2 separate regions of the Homo sapiens genome follow, and region 2 is linked to region 1. Evidence: fine-mapped expression QTL. Tissue or cell type: subcutaneous fat. Region 1 holds a variant in brackets; the other region holds the start of a gene. All regions are shown on one strand. Distances are from middle to middle.

Evidence for each region. PIP is the estimated chance that this variant, and not a neighbour inherited with it, causes the effect.
Region 2: it holds the start of CRTAC1, and the variant in region 1 is fine-mapped to the expression of CRTAC1 in subcutaneous fat (GTEx, PIP 0.98).

Annotation. Positions count from the first base shown.
Region 1 is chr10:97,880,237-97,888,341 of GRCh38, reverse strand. CRTAC1 (cartilage acidic protein 1) reads left to right here. Exons shown (of 15, transcript NM_018058.7): 12 at 3,991-4,136; 13 at 5,514-5,556; 14 at 7,950-8,093. Among named protein-coding and RNA genes, the nearest start is that of MIR3085, 8.4 kb to the right of the region's middle. RefSeq lists enhancers at 1-142, 5,139-6,338 and a silencer at 5,556-5,850. The variant G/A (reference allele first, on the strand shown) is at 3,778.
Region 2 is chr10:98,027,420-98,035,524 of GRCh38, reverse strand. CRTAC1 (cartilage acidic protein 1) reads left to right here and starts at 4,904. Exons shown (of 15, transcript NM_018058.7): 1 at 4,904-5,076. The coding sequence starts at 5,053.

The DNA.
Region 1 (8,105 bases):
CCGCCTCACAAACTCTTACTCCTCCTGCAATACCCAAATGAAATGACCCATCTCTCTCACCACATGGTAACAGTGCTGTTGTGGCACTTTCCCAGCTTATAATATAATCACTTGTATTCATCGCTCCCATGGGAATCATGAGAATGGGGCCTGGGTCTGTCTCATTCTCTGTTGAATCCCAAATCCCTGCACAAAGCTTGGTATATGGTGGCTGCTGGGCGTGGGATAGGGTGGGCAGTGTAACAGGGGCACAGTAGATACCGGCTCTGGGATCTCTCGGACCTCTGCTGGGCAACTGGGCGATTCACTGCATCTGTCCATGGCTCCACCTTCTCATCTCTAAGGCAGAAATGATAACACTGGCACCTTCCTCGTGGAGATGTGAAGTTTCGATGCGTTAGCATCATAAAGCACTTGGTACAGCTTGGGGCACGCTGTCAGTGTTCACTGTTGTTACCAACACCTGAAAGCCCTTTGGAAACTGTAGGGAGACCCCATGACCAAGAGCCGATGGTGCCAGGGATGCTGAGGTGAATGGTTAACAGCAGGCCAGGACTCCTGCTCCAGGGTAGAAAGGCTGTGCTTCCTAGGAGTGGTAAGGCTGTTGGCCAGCACCCCCATCTTACAGATGAAGTAGCTGAGGCCCAGAGAGGATGCCCAAGTTAGCAAAACACAGTGGCAGAGGAGGGAGTCCTGCTGGTTGTGCTTTCTGAGGCCTGCTTATCTCATAGCCCCAGGCCCCCTGCACCACGTCTGGGTCTGGAGGAAGCTGCGGAAGCAGTACTCAAAACTAAGTCCCGCTGGTGGTGGTGACTCACGCCTATAATCCCAGCACTTTGGGAGGCCGAGGCTGGGTGGATCACCTGAGGTCAGGAGTTCGAGACCAGCCTGACCAACATGGAGAAACCCCATTTCTACTAAAAATACAAAATTAGCCAGGTGTGGTGGCAGGTGCCTGTAATCCCAGCTACTCGGGAAAGCTTTAGGCAGAAAAATTGCTTGAACCTGGGAGGCGGAGGTTGTGGTGAACTGAGATCCCACCACTGCACTCCAGCCTGGGCAACAAGAGCAAAACTCCATCTCAAAATAAAAACAGAAAAAAAAAAAAAAAAAACCTAAGTGCCGCAAGTACCACATGCAAATCTGTGATTGTCTATGAATATTCCGTGACTCTTTTGGGTCCTTTGTGGCCCTTCAGTCAGTCTGGAAAACACATTCATGTAGCTGTTCTGCAGGCTTAGGTAAGAAACATTTGCTGTTCTTTGTCTCCTTCTTTTAATGGCAAATATTTACCTTTTATATGTGCCACTTAACTTGGGAACTGTACACCCTGAAAATGCCAAATCTCTTGCGCCTCAAGATTCTACTTCAAATTAGAAAAAAAAAAAAAGAAATCTGGCCGGGTGTGGTGGGTCACGTCTGTAATCCCAACACTTTAAGAAGCTGAGGTGGGTGGATCACTTGAGGTCAGGAGTTTGAGATCAGCCTGGCCAGCATGGCGAAACCCTGTCTCTACTAAAAATACAAAAATTAGCCAGGCGCGGTGGTACATGCCTGTAATCCCAACTACTCAGGAGGCTGAGGCAGGAGAATGGCTTCAACCTGGGAGGGGGAGGTTGCAGTGAGCTGAGATCCCACCACCACACTCCAGCCTGGGTGACAGATTGAGATACTATCTCAAAAAAAAAAAAAGAAAAAAGAAAAAAAAATCTGTAGTTGGCACTCCCCAGTCCCATTTTCACCCCGCTTCTGCAGAAGGAATTCTTGTAGATTGAGGGAGTGATGAGAAATAATTTCTTGCTTGATAAAGCAAAACCCAGAACGGTAAGGTTGGGCCTGGAAAGAGAGGATTTCCCTGTGGGAAGAGAAACTGAGCTGTGTGGGAGGGGAACTCAGTGTGTGAGGATGAGCCTCTGTCTCCGAGCCTCTCCGTTGCTGCTGCCTGCTGTGCCCATGAGGGCAGCGGCTGCCTCTCCATGGACTCTTCAGAGTGTAGCTCTGGTCCTGGCCCTCATAGGCTCACAGCATGGCAGCAGCAAGGCTGGGATGTTCCAGTGATACTCCCCTGGAGGCCAGGGTGAGAGAGCAAAAGGAGACCAAACATGGGAAGGATCTAGAAGCTGGGGGATGTGGCTCACAAGGCGTAACTCCCTCTGGAACCTCCCTCATCATGGGTCCTCCCCCCAGCACCCGGCTCCCTTCCTCCATGCCCCACAGTGGTCTCTACAGGAAGTCTACACAGAGATTCTCCTCCAAGTCTGCATGTGGCCTCCAAACCTCCTTTTCTAAAATATGGGAACCCCTTTTATACATCAAGACATTTTGCCAACTACCGTCCACCCCATAGTAGCTATCATTGTAAAATTCATTGGTGGATAGTAATGACCAAATGCGAATATACATTCAACAGCAATTTTAAGTTTAATTTGTTTTCTAACAGTATCTACATATATTAGGAAAAATAATGGTGCATATATGTGGGTGATATATTATTTAGCCTGGGAATGGTGTTTGGGGGAGTGTATTGACTTCAGGTCCCCCTGCAGGACCCCGTGTCCCCACATCTGCTCAGCCCTGATGGGTGATAGAGTGGGCTGTGTTCTCCCCCTGTCTGTGCTGGGCACAGCTCTCCTTCCCAGGGGCTGACCTGAGAGCAGCCTCTCCTGGAAGGTGAGGCCCAGCCCCCGCCTCCTCCCCACCCCAATCCATCACCATTAGCCTGACCTTGCCACAGTGACGGGCCTGTTTCCTTACGCGGGGAGCTGGGGCCTGCTTTGACAGTGCCTAAACATCTGACAAATCTTTTCAGCCTGCTTTCCACCAATGATGTGGCACGTTGCTTTAGGGTTGTGTGCAAATGGATTCACTGTGAATATCTCTGAGGTTCCCATCATCTTCTGTAAGCATCTTAGATTTGTAGAATGGTCTTTCTCCCCTGTCCTCCACCTGCCATCTCTTTATCACTCCATCTTTTCTAAGTTGTTTTTTGTTTGTTTTTATTTTTTTCAGAAACAGGGTCTCACTATGTTGCCCAGGCTGGCCTTGAAGTCCTGGGCTCAGCCAATACTTCTGCCTCATCCTCCTGAGTAGCTGGGATTCCAGGCATGAGCCACCATGCCCAGCTCTTTTTCCAAGTTATTATGTAGAGCTCAGTGCAAATGCCGCCTCCCTAAGAGGCTGTCCCTGACCACCTGACTAGACAAGGCCCTGGCAACCCCCAGCTCCTCCTTACCTACTTGCCCTACTTTTGTCAATATCTGGCATTATTTATTTGTTCATCTGTTTGCTTGTCTCCCCAACTGGACTGGGAACTCCATGAGAACAGGGGCATCCCCAGTGACAAGAGAGAGCCTGGCCCTTAGCAGAGCTCAATAAATAGAAACACAAGAAGCATTCCTGGGATAACAAAGCCAGTTAGCTGCACAGCTGGGATTTGTCCCCAGGTCTCCCACCCACTTCCCACCATGCTCTTTCCAACATACCAGGTAAGGGGTAGAGCCATGATTTGAATGCCAGACTCCAAAGACAACCTGCTTATCACAGGCCTTACTGTATCCTCCAGTACAGCCTCCTGATGCTTGGCCTGTCTGCTAGAACGTGAGTTCAAGAGCTGCACTATCCAACATGGCAGCCACCAGCCATGTGTGGCCATTAAATTTAAATTAATTAGAGTTAAATAAAATTGAAAATTCACCTCTTCAATCACGTGAGTCCCACTTCAAGTGCTCAACAGCCACATGTTACCAGTGGCTACTGTACTGGACAGCACAGATGCAG[G/A]ACATTTCTGTCCTTGCAGACAGACAGGTCTATTGGACAGCATTGCTCCAGAGAGGAGGGACCTCAAATCTGTCTTGTTCACCATTTCCCTAGCACTTAGAACAGTGCTCAATTCATGCTTTTATTCAATGGATGAATTAGTTGATGCTGATGCTTCCGCTGAGAGCCTCCTGCTCTCCTCTGCTGCTGATGCTCTCTCCTTCTGCCCCTCAGGGAAGGATGAAGCCAGCAGTGTGGAGGTGACGTGGCCAGATGGCAAGATGGTGAGCCGGAACGTGGCCAGCGGGGAGATGAACTCAGTGCTGGAGATCCTCTACCCCCGGGATGAGGACACACTTCAGGACCCAGCCCCACTGGAGGTGGGCAAAGGCATCTGGGCCTCATAGCCAGAAAAGCGGGCACCACCCACAACCCCATGGGCTGAAGCTGGGTTCCCAGGAATCTGCAAACTCAGCCTCTAGAGTGATGGAAATCTTGGCAAAGCGAAGGCTTCATACTGATCCCTCCATTTGTAGTTTGCACAACACTATCACACCCACATCTCTTCTGCTTCTCAAAGAATCCCTGGTGTATTGGCAGGGCAAGCATTTTTGCACCCATTTTACAGAGGAAGAAAACTGAGGTTAAGAGAGGAAATCCACCAAGGCCCACCAAGGCTGTACAGCCAGTTGTGAGCAAAGTTTTAAAATGACCCCAGGTCTGTTGCTGCCCTCCTGGTTCTTTCTGAGTCTCTGACAAGACCTCCTATTGCCCTAGGGTGGGGCTCAGAGCCTGCACCAGGTTTTCTGGAGGCTCTTTGAGGAGCAGCTCTGGACCCATCTCAGCAGTGTCGTTCCAACTCTGATGGGGTTCACTTGGTGGCGATTAACAGGAACCCACTGAAACTGACACAAATGAAGGGGGCTTATAAGGAGGATCACTCATAAAACTCAGGGAAGCTCAGGATGAGTAGAAACTGGCAGCTTGATGGCCTCAGCCCTAGGAGCTCAAGGACCTTTGTCAGTGCACTGGCTTTGGGAGGAGAGGGGCCCCTCTTCCCCAACAATCCCCATCCACCCACCTCATTCATCAGTACGGTTGATTGACATTTTGTGTCATGTGTGTTACGTTTTTAGTCCCCTGCCCCACCCCAGGCTGCTGTCTCTGAGACCCCCATATGGGCATGGTAGAGCCTCCACAGCCTGGCAGGGCCGGCTCCCAACTCTTAAGTCTCTGAGTCAATTTGTTCAAATTCTTGCTGCAAAGCCTTGAGTCTTCCCTCCTGCTAGGATGTCCACCCATCAGCCCTGGCCAGAGAGGTGGGACACAAGCATGGCTGCAGGCACCCACCCGTGTGAGGGAGAGGTTCTTGGAGAAGTGAATGTGGGCAGTGAGCAGACACCTCAAAAAGCATCTCCCAGCCCTCATTACACTTTGCCCTGACAGACCCAGCCTCAGTCACAGGGTGATGCTACAGAAGGGACAGGTTCTGTTAGACGTCCCAGCTCGTGTGGATCCTTTGCACAGGGAAATGAGCAAGAGTCTGAACCGTATCCATTCATGGCCTTCCCGCCAGCCTTCTGTTCTCAGCGCAAAGGAAGGGTCTTACAAGGGAGGGGGCTCCCCCCAGGCCCAGAGCTCAGAGCATGCCTCACACTGTGGTTAGGGTGACAACTACTCTGTGGCTGTGACTAGGAGGGAACCTGGGATGGGACCTTCTCAACTCACTCATGTCTCTGCTTCTGCCCACCTTACAGTGTGGCCAAGGATTCTCCCAGCAGGAAAATGGCCATTGCATGGGTGAGTTGCCTTCAGTCACCAGGGCATGGGGTAGAGGCCGGAATCTCCCTGGGGAATGCCCGCCTGACTCATGCCAAGGTCCAGGGTGCAAGCAAGGGGCAGAAAGGAGGACAGGGGAGGGTGTTGTTTGTCCTGGGACTCCAGATGCCAAGACAACCACCACATGACTCACCAGGGTGGGAGTGATATTAGTGACCCACAGGCTGAATCACTGCGGTTCTGGAAACTGGCAGTGTTTTCCTGCCATGAGTACCGAGAAACTGCAGATGGGAAGGAGACACACCACCAACCTGGCACAGGGGGAATAGCCACATGCCATGGCCAGCAAGTCCATGTGGAGCAGCAAGCAAGGGGGCTGGCAGGCAAGGGTGTGCATTGCCAAGGGCATTGGGGCAAAATAGTGTATGGAGTGTGGTCACAGTGTGGAACGGAGACTGCAGCCTGGTGCAGTACTGGGGCAGGCAGGTAGCTGCAGCACTACCAGGATGGCAGCTCCTTGACGGTCCAAGAACCTTCTGAAAGTCCCCAAGAGCCTGGAATGGGAAGGGGCAGCCTAGAAGTTCAGTGTCCAGGAGACCTTCACCCCCAACACTTTCCATCCCAGTGACCAGCAAGGAGGGGTCAGGCCAAGGATCCCTCCTTCCTTGAACCCTCATCCAGCATTCTTCCCAAGTCTACTCTGCAGCTGCTCATTAACCCTTTGCTACTGAGATACAGGAGTAAACAAGACAGATACCACTCTCAGGAGCTGAAAACCAATGGAGAGCCACAAAAGTAAACAGCTGTCGACCACACAGTGTGATCAGGGCCCAGATGGGGGAGGGCAGGGGCTTGGAGATGACAAAGCAGGGGCCCTAAACCAGCCTAGGGAGGGTCCTAGAAGGTGCCCTAGAGAAAGTGAGGTCCAAGCTGGGCCCTGAGGAATGAGGAGCAGTTCGGCAGTCACAGAGAGGGGAGACATGGTTCTGGTGGGGGGCACTGTCTGAACAAAGGAGCACAGGTGGGGAGGTGGAGGAGCAGTGGTGCCAAGGGTGGCTGGAGGAGGAAATGACTCCCCTACACTCTCCACATGCCCACCCAGCCCCACTCCAAACACATAGTGCAGGTGCATAGAAATTCCAGAGTCTTCTCTGCCTGCAGGAAGGACCCTTTGAGATCAGCCTCCTCTTCCTTTTCATCGCCCAACAGGCAGTTATGTGCCTCGTACACAGCAAGTGTCATGCTGGGAGCTGGGGATGTAGGCCAAGTGCCACCCCCGCGCCTCCACAAGAGGGGCATCCATTCTAGTGGAGGGAGACAGACCCTGAACGCATGACCACACACCTGGACAAGATGATTTCAGAACCCTCTGAGCAAGGTGCTCCCTGGAGACTGTTCCAGAGAGAGTGGTCAGGGAGGGCCTCGGGGGGAAGACTCTGAGCTGAGACCTGAAGGATGAGAAGGATCTAGGCCCAGAAAGAGTTGAGGGAAGGGCAGGAGTGAAAAGCGGGAGACAGGACAAAGGCTTTGTGTGTTGAAGGAGCAGGAGGGATGCCAGTATGGCCTGGAGATGATGGAGAGTCCATGAGGCCCCTGTAGGGAGTCTGAATTTTGCTCTTAGGAGCCTTAGAAGCTAAACTGGGGAGTGACATGATGTGATTCACATTTTTAAAGGCTCCCTCCAGCTGCTGAATTGCAGAGTGGATTGGAGGGAAGAGGGGAAGCCAGGTATTCTGTGAGGAGGCAGCTGCAGAAATCCAGGCAAGAGGTCACGATGGCAGGAAATTGGGTGGTGGCAGAGGAATGAGAAAGAGGTGACAGAGAGAGGTGGACTGGTGGACTGCGGGGCAGAGTGGACAGGCTCTGCTGTGAAATTGCACAGGGGGCAAGAAAGACGGAGAAATCAGGGGTCGCTCTGATTTCCCCTTGAGCAGCTGATTGATGATGGGGGTGTTGATTGAGCTAGAGAAGACAGAACAGAGGGCCAGAATATGGGCAGGGCAGGGCAGAATCTGGAGTTCTATTTTGGACATATTAAGCATGAGGTGCATCTTAGACATCCAAGTGGAGCTGTCAAGTAGGTCATGGGTTATTGTATTCGTGAGTCTGGAGCCACGGGGAGAGGTTGTGACTGGAGATAGAACTTTCGGAATCATCCATGCATGAAGAGATCACCTAGAACGATTGTAGTAGACAGAAGAGAGGACCCAGGACCAAGCCTGAGTGCCCACCCCCTGCCCCCAGCATGTAGAGACCAAGTACAGGAGGAGCCAGCCAAGGGAACTGAAGCAGGGAAACTGAGGCTCTGCGAGGAAGGCACATTCCCAAAGCCAGACAGTGTATAGGCAGGCAGAGCCTGGGCTGGTACTTGCTGCCCCACACCTTCATGGTGAGTGGTTCCCCTCGCCTTGCAGACACCAATGAATGCATCCAGTTCCCATTCGTGTGCCCTCGAGACAAGCCCGTATGTGTCAACACCTATGGAAGCTACAGGTGCCGGACCAACAAGAAGTGCAGTCGGGGCTACGAGCCCAACGAGGATGGCACAGCCTGCGTGGGTGAGTGGGGCC
Region 2 (8,105 bases), 150 kb before region 1:
GCTCACTGGACACATAGGCAGGTAAGTTCCTGGAACCCAAGCCATTTTGGCACAGGTTAACATGATAAGCAGACACCTGCTTGCATCGTTACCTCCAGGCTTCCCCCTGCCCCACAGCCTCGAAAGTTTCTAACCAGACTTCCCCAGGATTCCATCATGTCCTCCTTCTTCCAGCATCCCTTTCCTGGGGCTGCTCTGCCTGCAGAGTTTCCCTGCAGCATGCGCTCACAGCTCAAGGTCTTCTGAACAAACTCTCTGGCCATCTGGAAGACTCCTTTCTGCATCTGTGATGGCTCTGGCTCTGGCCCTGACTGAACCATCCCCCAGGGTTTGTGGCTTCTCTAAAAGAGTTCCTGTCCAACTTTACCCCTAACCTACCTCCCCTTGAAAGTCCATCCTATGCATCTGCCTCTTACAAGCCACAAGTGCATCTGAAACCCAACGGCCATGTGATAAATGTGTACTCCTTGGGAAAAAGGGACGACCCCTCCATACGACTTGGTTTGAGAAGGGGTTATTTCCTCATACCCCCTTTAGCTCCTCATTTCTTTCACAGTTTGTGGTTTCCCATTTTCAACTATTGCTGTTTTTCCACCCCCTTACAAAAAGATTCATTTCTTTTGAGACAACCAAGCCTAAAATACACAATCCCTTATCTACAATTCCAAATCCCCAAATCTCTGAAAGTCAAAAGGATTTTTGTTTTGCAAGTTTGATGCCAAGACTCATCTGGTAGCAAAATCTGACCTAAACTGATGTGAAGTTACTTTATCCTCACACCTGCTTAGTGTAAACTTCATATATTTCATTGCAGAAATATTAATGTGTCTGATTTCAATATGCTGCTCAAAGCTTCACTGAGAATGTTTATGTATGGTGCCTTTCTGAATTCTAAAATGCCTCTGGCCTCAAGGGCTTCAGATAAGGGTGTGAGGAACTGTACCAGCCTCTCTGTTCTCCTGTGACAGAACTCTTGGGACAGAAGCATCTCTAAGATCTGGTGTCTTGACTTCTCACCCGGAGAGAGAGAAGATAGCCAAGTAATCTTCTAATGTAGAGAGAGAATTAACAAAGTCATTTGTCAATGAAAGGACATGGGGTCTGGAGGTTGTCTTCAGTGTTTCCTACAGTTTTTGTCCTGTCCTTAACTTGTTGCATGACTGTTAGCAACTTGCGTAAAGTCCAACCTCTCTGATCCTGGACTTTAGAAGAAAACTAGCTCCTGAGAACTCCTGCTCCAGTGATGTTGATGATGACTAACACACACAATACATCTTGAGTTTTTAGAAAATGAAGTACTGTACAGCTTTAATAGTATTTTTAAGTAAATAGGTTTAATTGGAATAACTCAGCAAATATCTAATGTGTGTTCACTCTGTGCCCAGTTTCATGCTGGGTTCTGTGAGGTAGTCAACTGCAAGGTACAAACTCTGGACTTCAAGGGGCTCATATTCTGATAGGGAGGCCAAGTATCACTGAGTGAAAAAAAGCTAATGTGCATCACAGGTGATAAGATGGTGTAGACCTGCAGGAGAGCTGAAAACTGCTGGCCAGGGCAGTTTTGGAAGGTGGCGCAGGAAGGAAGACTTGGTTTGGGTATGAACAGATGAGAAAACAATTTAAGCACGTTCCCCAGGTAAGAATGAAGAAGTCTGTGGGGGAACACTCTGAAGAAAAAACAACTTCACTGGGGTCAAAGGACTGGAGCCTGAACAAGATGCATGGGGTAAGGGTGTGCTGAAAATGTGTGTATTAGTCAGCTCAGACTGCCATAGCCAATACCACAGACGTGGAGCTTAACCACAGAAGTTAATGTTCTCACAGTTCTGGAGCCTGGAAGTCCCAGATCAAGGTGCTGGCAGGTCTGGTTTCTGCAGAGGCCCTGCTCCTGGCTTGCAGATGGCCTCCTCCTGTTACTCAGGCAGGCTTTCTCCTGAGGATGCACAGAGAGAAATGGGAGATCTCTGGTATCTCTCTCTCTTCTTACGAGGACACTAGTCCTATTGAATTAGGGTCCACCCTTATGATCTCATTTTGCCTTAATTGCCCCTTTAAAGGCCTTATCTCCAAATGCAGTCACACTAAGGGTTAGGGCTTCACTATGTGAATTTGGTCCGGAGAGGCACAATTCAGTCTATAACCGTGTGCATGTGCCTCAAGAAAGCTGTGTTTGGGCAATGTGGGAGGACAAGAGGTCTCTCACGGGATTGGGGGTGGGGAAGGGCTGGAGCTCTGAGCAGACACTGACATGAACTGAGCAAATGGACATCGAGGACATCAGAGAAATGAGAAATTTTCCAACCAGGACTGCCTGGCCCACTGGGCTAAACCCTCACAAGTTCAAGTGCTGAAGCCAGATTGTATTCCCTGGAGCACTTCCTGGCTGGAACATCTCCATCATTTCCTGCATTTTTCTGTCCTTCCCTAGCACCTTTGGTCTGTTGTAACCTTACCTGGCTAGCTGCAGGAAAGTGTGAGATTATTACAGAGTTATTTTGCACAGAGCACCTATTCACATCTGGTTGGCTAATGCTGATAATTACCGTGCTGGTTACTAAATCTGTCGGGTCTGGGTGAGGTGAGGCGCTACAGCTGGGGCTGCTGTGCACAGCTTCACCGGAGAAGAGAGAGGTGAGAACAAAAACCAAGAAAGGTGTGCTCAGATGTTTGGGATTGAGTGAAACTGGTTAATTACCAGTCACTTGCTGTCTCCCTGAGTTGGAGTTTCTGGCTAAGGAATGCTCATAGATCAGACATAATATGACAACCTGCAACTTATTTCCACATTAAGAGGGTGGCGGGGACCAAGATGCAGAGAAAGTGTGGAGACAGTCTCTCAGGTGCCAGAGCCTTGGCCAGATGACTCAGATGCCCTCAGAACAAGGTGGTGGCATGTTCCAGCAGGGTGCAGAGCCAACTGGACTCCTTATGCAGAGAGCTGGGGATCAGATATGGCCTTGGGGGCAGAGTCTATTTGCCGATAGATGAAGGTTCTTAATCAGGGCCCTAGATTAAGTTTTAATGATCCACGAACCCTCCTAAAGTTGCATGTCAACATGTGTGTATGTGAGTGAGCATTTTTATAAGCAACAGATCCATAACATTTATGAGATTCTTGAAAGGTTCTAAAGGGTCTGTGATCCCCAAAAGGAGGGTGATTATAAACTACTGTCCTAGACCCCTGAAGAAACAGGTTGACATTGGACCGAGCCCCAAGAGACTCAGGGTTCCTAATGATCCTGAAAGTATACTCAAGGTGTGTGTGTGTGTGTGTGTGTGTGTGTGTGTGTGTGTGTGTGTAAATGTGTGTGTTTGTATATTTTTCTAGAAAAATGATTCAGTAATTTTTGCCAGATTTTCAAAGGGGCCCACAACCTTACAGGCTTGATGGGGGCTCAAAAAGCCAGAAAGTTTGTCTGTGCCTAGCTATTTCTTTTCAGAGGAAGATCACAGAGACCTGAAAACAGAGCCCAGACTAGGTCCTGGTAGTTCTGCTCAAAATCTGTGGATAACAGGGGCCAGAGGCTGGATGTGTGGCCCTCTATAAAAGAACACATTCAAATCATTCTAAGAGTCAAGGGCCCAGAAGCCAGACTAGTGGGTGATGGTCACAAAAGCGTCAACGGATGGGAAAACAGTCCTAGCTCCTTCCCTCTCCGATGGTGGATTCCCAAGTCTTTCTCTTCTGTGGCCCCTTTACCTGGCTTTCAGAAACCCAAAGACCTCACTCATGGAAGCTCAGAATTCATTCAATAAACACTGAGCGCCTACTATGTGCCAGGCTCTATTCTAGGCGTAAAATAAAGGATTTGCCTTCAGAGTGTGACCCACCAAGGCCAGTTTCCTGCCTGAACAGGGGTATTTTGAGCATTGCTGATCAAGTGTGTTTTTCTGGCGCTTAGCACCCCCATTCCCCTGGTCCAGAGAGGCAGAAACCATCCCCCCACCACCACCAAGGCAGCGGGTTGGGGGCGAGGAGAGGCGGGCAGTACCTGTGATCAAAGCGGTGAGGGAGGCTAGTAGGACGCAGGCGGCAGGAGCGGGTGGGCCAGGCCCGACTCGGCCACTGCTGGGGTAGGGACTAGGTGGGATGGGGTGGGGGCACTGCTGGTGGGGACGGGGTGGGGTAGAAGCGGCGCTGCCCGCAGCCGCCTGGGCCTCTGCGCGCCTGATCTCCGAGCTGCGCTCGCCCGCTCCCCGCCTGCGGGGGCCGTCGCGGAGCCCTGCTCTCCATACTGAGCAGTCCCCGGGAGGTGCTCGGACACGTCCCCAGGCTGGATAAAGATCGGCTCGGCTCTAGCTCCGTAGTCGAAATCTCGCCATCAGCGCGGCTCGCTCGGCCGCTTTGGCCCGGCCCGGCGACGCCAGATCGCTATCCTGGGGGGAAATGGGAAGGCAGTGCAGCCGCTCCCGCCTCCACCCTCGGTCCTGCGCGCAGGGGTGGCCGCGGGGTCCTGGGGCTCGCCGCCCTCCCCTCCCCCTTCGCGTTCCTTCCCTGCGCTGCCTCCCGAGGGACCCTCGCTTCCCTCCGGCCTGGGGCCCCCAGCGCCCAGCCAGGCGCCCTCTCCCCTCCTCGCCAGGCCTCGCTGCCGCCTGAAGGTTACGCGACGCAGTGGCGGGGCGCGGGGGGCGCCCGCCCTCGCCGCCGCCTTCGCCGCCGCCCACCCCAGTGGCCGCCGCGCCGCGCCGGGCCAGCCTGGCTGCCGGCTGCTGCCACCGCAATCCCGGCTCCTAAATCAGCGCGGGGAGGCGCTCCCTCCCCACGCCCGGCTCTCCGGGCTCTCGGGGCCGCGATTGGCCGCGCCGGCGCCCCCCACCCCGGGCCCCCGGCTCCAGCTGCCGCGCCATTGGCTGCGGGCCTCCGCCAGCCTTTACATAAGACCGGGCGCGCTCGAGTGGAGTTGTATAAAGCGAGCGCGCGGCGTCGGGGCGGGAGGCTCGAGGCCAGCCCGGGACCGGGGCTGGGAGCAAGCAGGCGGCGGCGCCGGCGGCAGAGGCGGCAGCGAGCGCCCGCTTCCCACGCCCCTAGGCGGCGGGGCCGAGAGCGGGAGGATGGCTCCGAGCGCTGACCCCGGCGTGAGTATCTGCACCGGTGCCCCCCACCCTAAGGCGGAGAAAGTTTCTCCAGCTCTGCGCGCCCCCCCGGATCCGCCCGCAAGGGTGGCGGGGACGCCGCCCGGGAACCCGGGAAGACTGGGATCGCGAAGGCGGCGGCTTCGCTCCTAACTTGCTGGGAGGCGCTGGACTCGATTGGCGCGCGGAGCCTCCCCCGCGGGCTGGGGGTGAGGCGGCGGCCGGGTTGGAGGTGGCGGAGAGGTGGGAGCTGATGTGTGGGGGCGACAGCCAGCAGCTGGCAGAGAAAGTGTTGGGGGCGCACTGGAGGTCAGCTGTCAGGGGAGGGGGCCTCTGGGGCCTGGAGGGGGCGGAGCGGGTGAGGAGGGATGTGCCGGGCTATCGGGAGAGTCTCCCAGTCAGCCAGGCTGAGACCCGGGCCTGGGAAGCCACTGGCCTCGGCCGAGTGCCTACGCTTCCAGGCTGGGGAAGAGCCCCGCGGGCTGGCTCTTCCTCCCCTGGGAAGCCGAGTTCCCGGGCACAGCGCTGGGTGGCAGAGAGCTCCGGGAGCCAGCCCCGCGCGCGGCGTAGCTGCTAGCCGCCTTATGCTGGACGAGGTGTGGTCTTCCCTTCAGGCTGCCTGAGGCAAGCCGGCTTCAGGCATTCCAGGGGAACCCTGAGTCCTCCTCGACCCCGTGGGGGCACTTGGAGGCTTTGATGGGGCAGCCAGGCCGGGCTTGGGGGCATGCCCAGCAATGCAGCGCGCTTCTTTGCAGTACAGTAGTTGGGAGCCCTGGTTAGTCCCGCTTCTGCAGAAAGCAACTCAAGAATCCAAAGTCATCCCAGCCTGGATGGAAGCCTCCCAGAGTGGCGGGGAAATTCTCCTAGGGTTGAGAGCTGGGGGGGCTTCCTCCAGGAATGACTAATGAATATTGCTGCTGCTGCCGCCGCCGCCGCCGCCGCCGCCGCCGCCGCCGCCGCTGCTGCTGCTGGTGGGTGCACCCAGTGTGGCTTCTGCACATCCCAGGAGATGCTTCCGTTCTCCTGACAGGACACATTCTTGAGTTGCACTTGAGGTGTCTTCTGGGATGGGTGCAGGACTTTCCACGTGAAGCCAAGTGGAAAAGAAGGGAAGAGGGTCCCAGGACAGGGGACAGTTCTATAGTGTTTTCTTGAGTCAGGGGAGAACTCATGTGGGAAGAGATAAGCGATTGACGGAGATTTGGAACCCAGACGACTTGGGGCTGGAGATGTCCAAGACTGAATTAGAGCTCATTGAGAGTCACAGAGTACCTCACCCTCAGCCATGGGGGAGAGGTGGAGGCTGGAAAAGTGGGAACATGGTGGCTGTTCCAGCATGGTTCTTGAGAAAATGTTCTCTCTCTCTCTCTGACTTGGTTAAGAACATCCTTCTGGCAGTAGGTCCTAAAGTCAATTTAAGAGGTAATGAAGGGAGTTGAGGGTCTTGATGATGGCACAGAGGACCACAATTAGAACATTTCCATTTCCGGTGGGTACTAATGGACTCTGGAAAAGGTCGAAACGGTGTGTAGGGAGTCTGGGGAACCTGCTCTGTGGCTGCTCATTTGAGCCTGAATCCTCCACCTTATCCCATCCCTGAATGTAGGTGGATGTTCAAACTCCTAGGGTACCTGCTTCAGCCTGGAGATATTTTATGGGTGCTATCAATCTATATCCCAACCCCCAGCTCCATCGTTGTCTGCTGCAGTCAACATTTTTCTGCTGCATTTCCCAAGACCTTCTCTCCACTGGGGATTTGTGCAGCGAAATACCTGCTTGTTGCTCTTTCTTCCCTTCTCCATCTGGGCTGCACCTGGTGTTCTGAACCCTGGTGTTTATTCCTTGGTACCTTGATGTTTGGTTAAGACGTCCTATGGCTGCGCAGGGGTGCCCCTGTAAATCTGTGGACCAATGGCCTGTGTAATTCTAGGGAGTGCAATAGACTTCTATAGAAAGAATACCACCAACCGGGAAGGCAGTCCTACTAAACAGCTTGTGACAGCCTCTCATGCTCAAGCGCTCCCTTGCTTCCGTGCTGAGGCGGTGGAAGCCTAAAGGTGGAGCAGACTCCTTGGTGTCCAGTAGGGGGCGCCAAAGGTACCTGGCTCAGGACCACTGACTTTCTCACTTCTTGCCCTTTACTGGCTGTAGCAACTTAATGCTTTAAGGCAGCTCAGGCTACAGCCTTCAACCACCACCATCGTACTTGGAATCCTTCTACCACATGCTTCCTGGGCTTCAGGTGGTCCTGTGACCTCGGGTGCTATGGGGCAGGTGCAAGCACAACATTCCAAGGAGACAGAGCTGGTACACAGCCCCACCCTCTCTCGGGGATCATTCCTTTGTGCTTGGTGCCGCTGTGTTCTTTGAACTCTTTAAGGGTTCATGGAGTTCCAGAACATTAGAGCCAGAAGCAAGGAGCCTTGGAGAGCATCTCATCCAACCCCATTCCATCCCAACACTCACATGCACATTTAATTTACAGATGAGAAAACTGAAGCTGGATAAAGCCAAGGTCACATGGCTATTTGGTGGAAGACATGGAACTAGGCCCTAGGATTCCCACTGCTCGATTCAGAGCTGTTTCCACTCCAGCGGCCTGCTTCCTCTTCACTATAAAGATGGACATACTTTCTCTATACAGTAGGCACTCATAGTTATTGACTGACCAGGCTTTGGTAAATTAATACATCCCATACAGTTGGGGAGATTCTATTTTGAATCTGTTTTTCAGAGTGAGGAGGTGAGGAGAAAATACAGTTCTTGTCATGGACATACACAGGTCATAGAAATTCCTAATTATTCTTTCCCTGCCTCTACAATCTCGTCTCATTATTCCAAGTGGTGTTTTAAGCAAAAGCCATGCAAGTCCAGGTTTCAGTCTGTGCATTTAGGAGTCAGAAGTGCCGAGTCCCTCACTGTGGTCTTGGAACCCAGGTCTGGAGCGCCAAGGAATGTTGGCGTGGGGTCTCTCTGCTTGCAGTCACACCACTGCTGGTGAGACCTCCCAGATTCAGATTATAGATGGATTG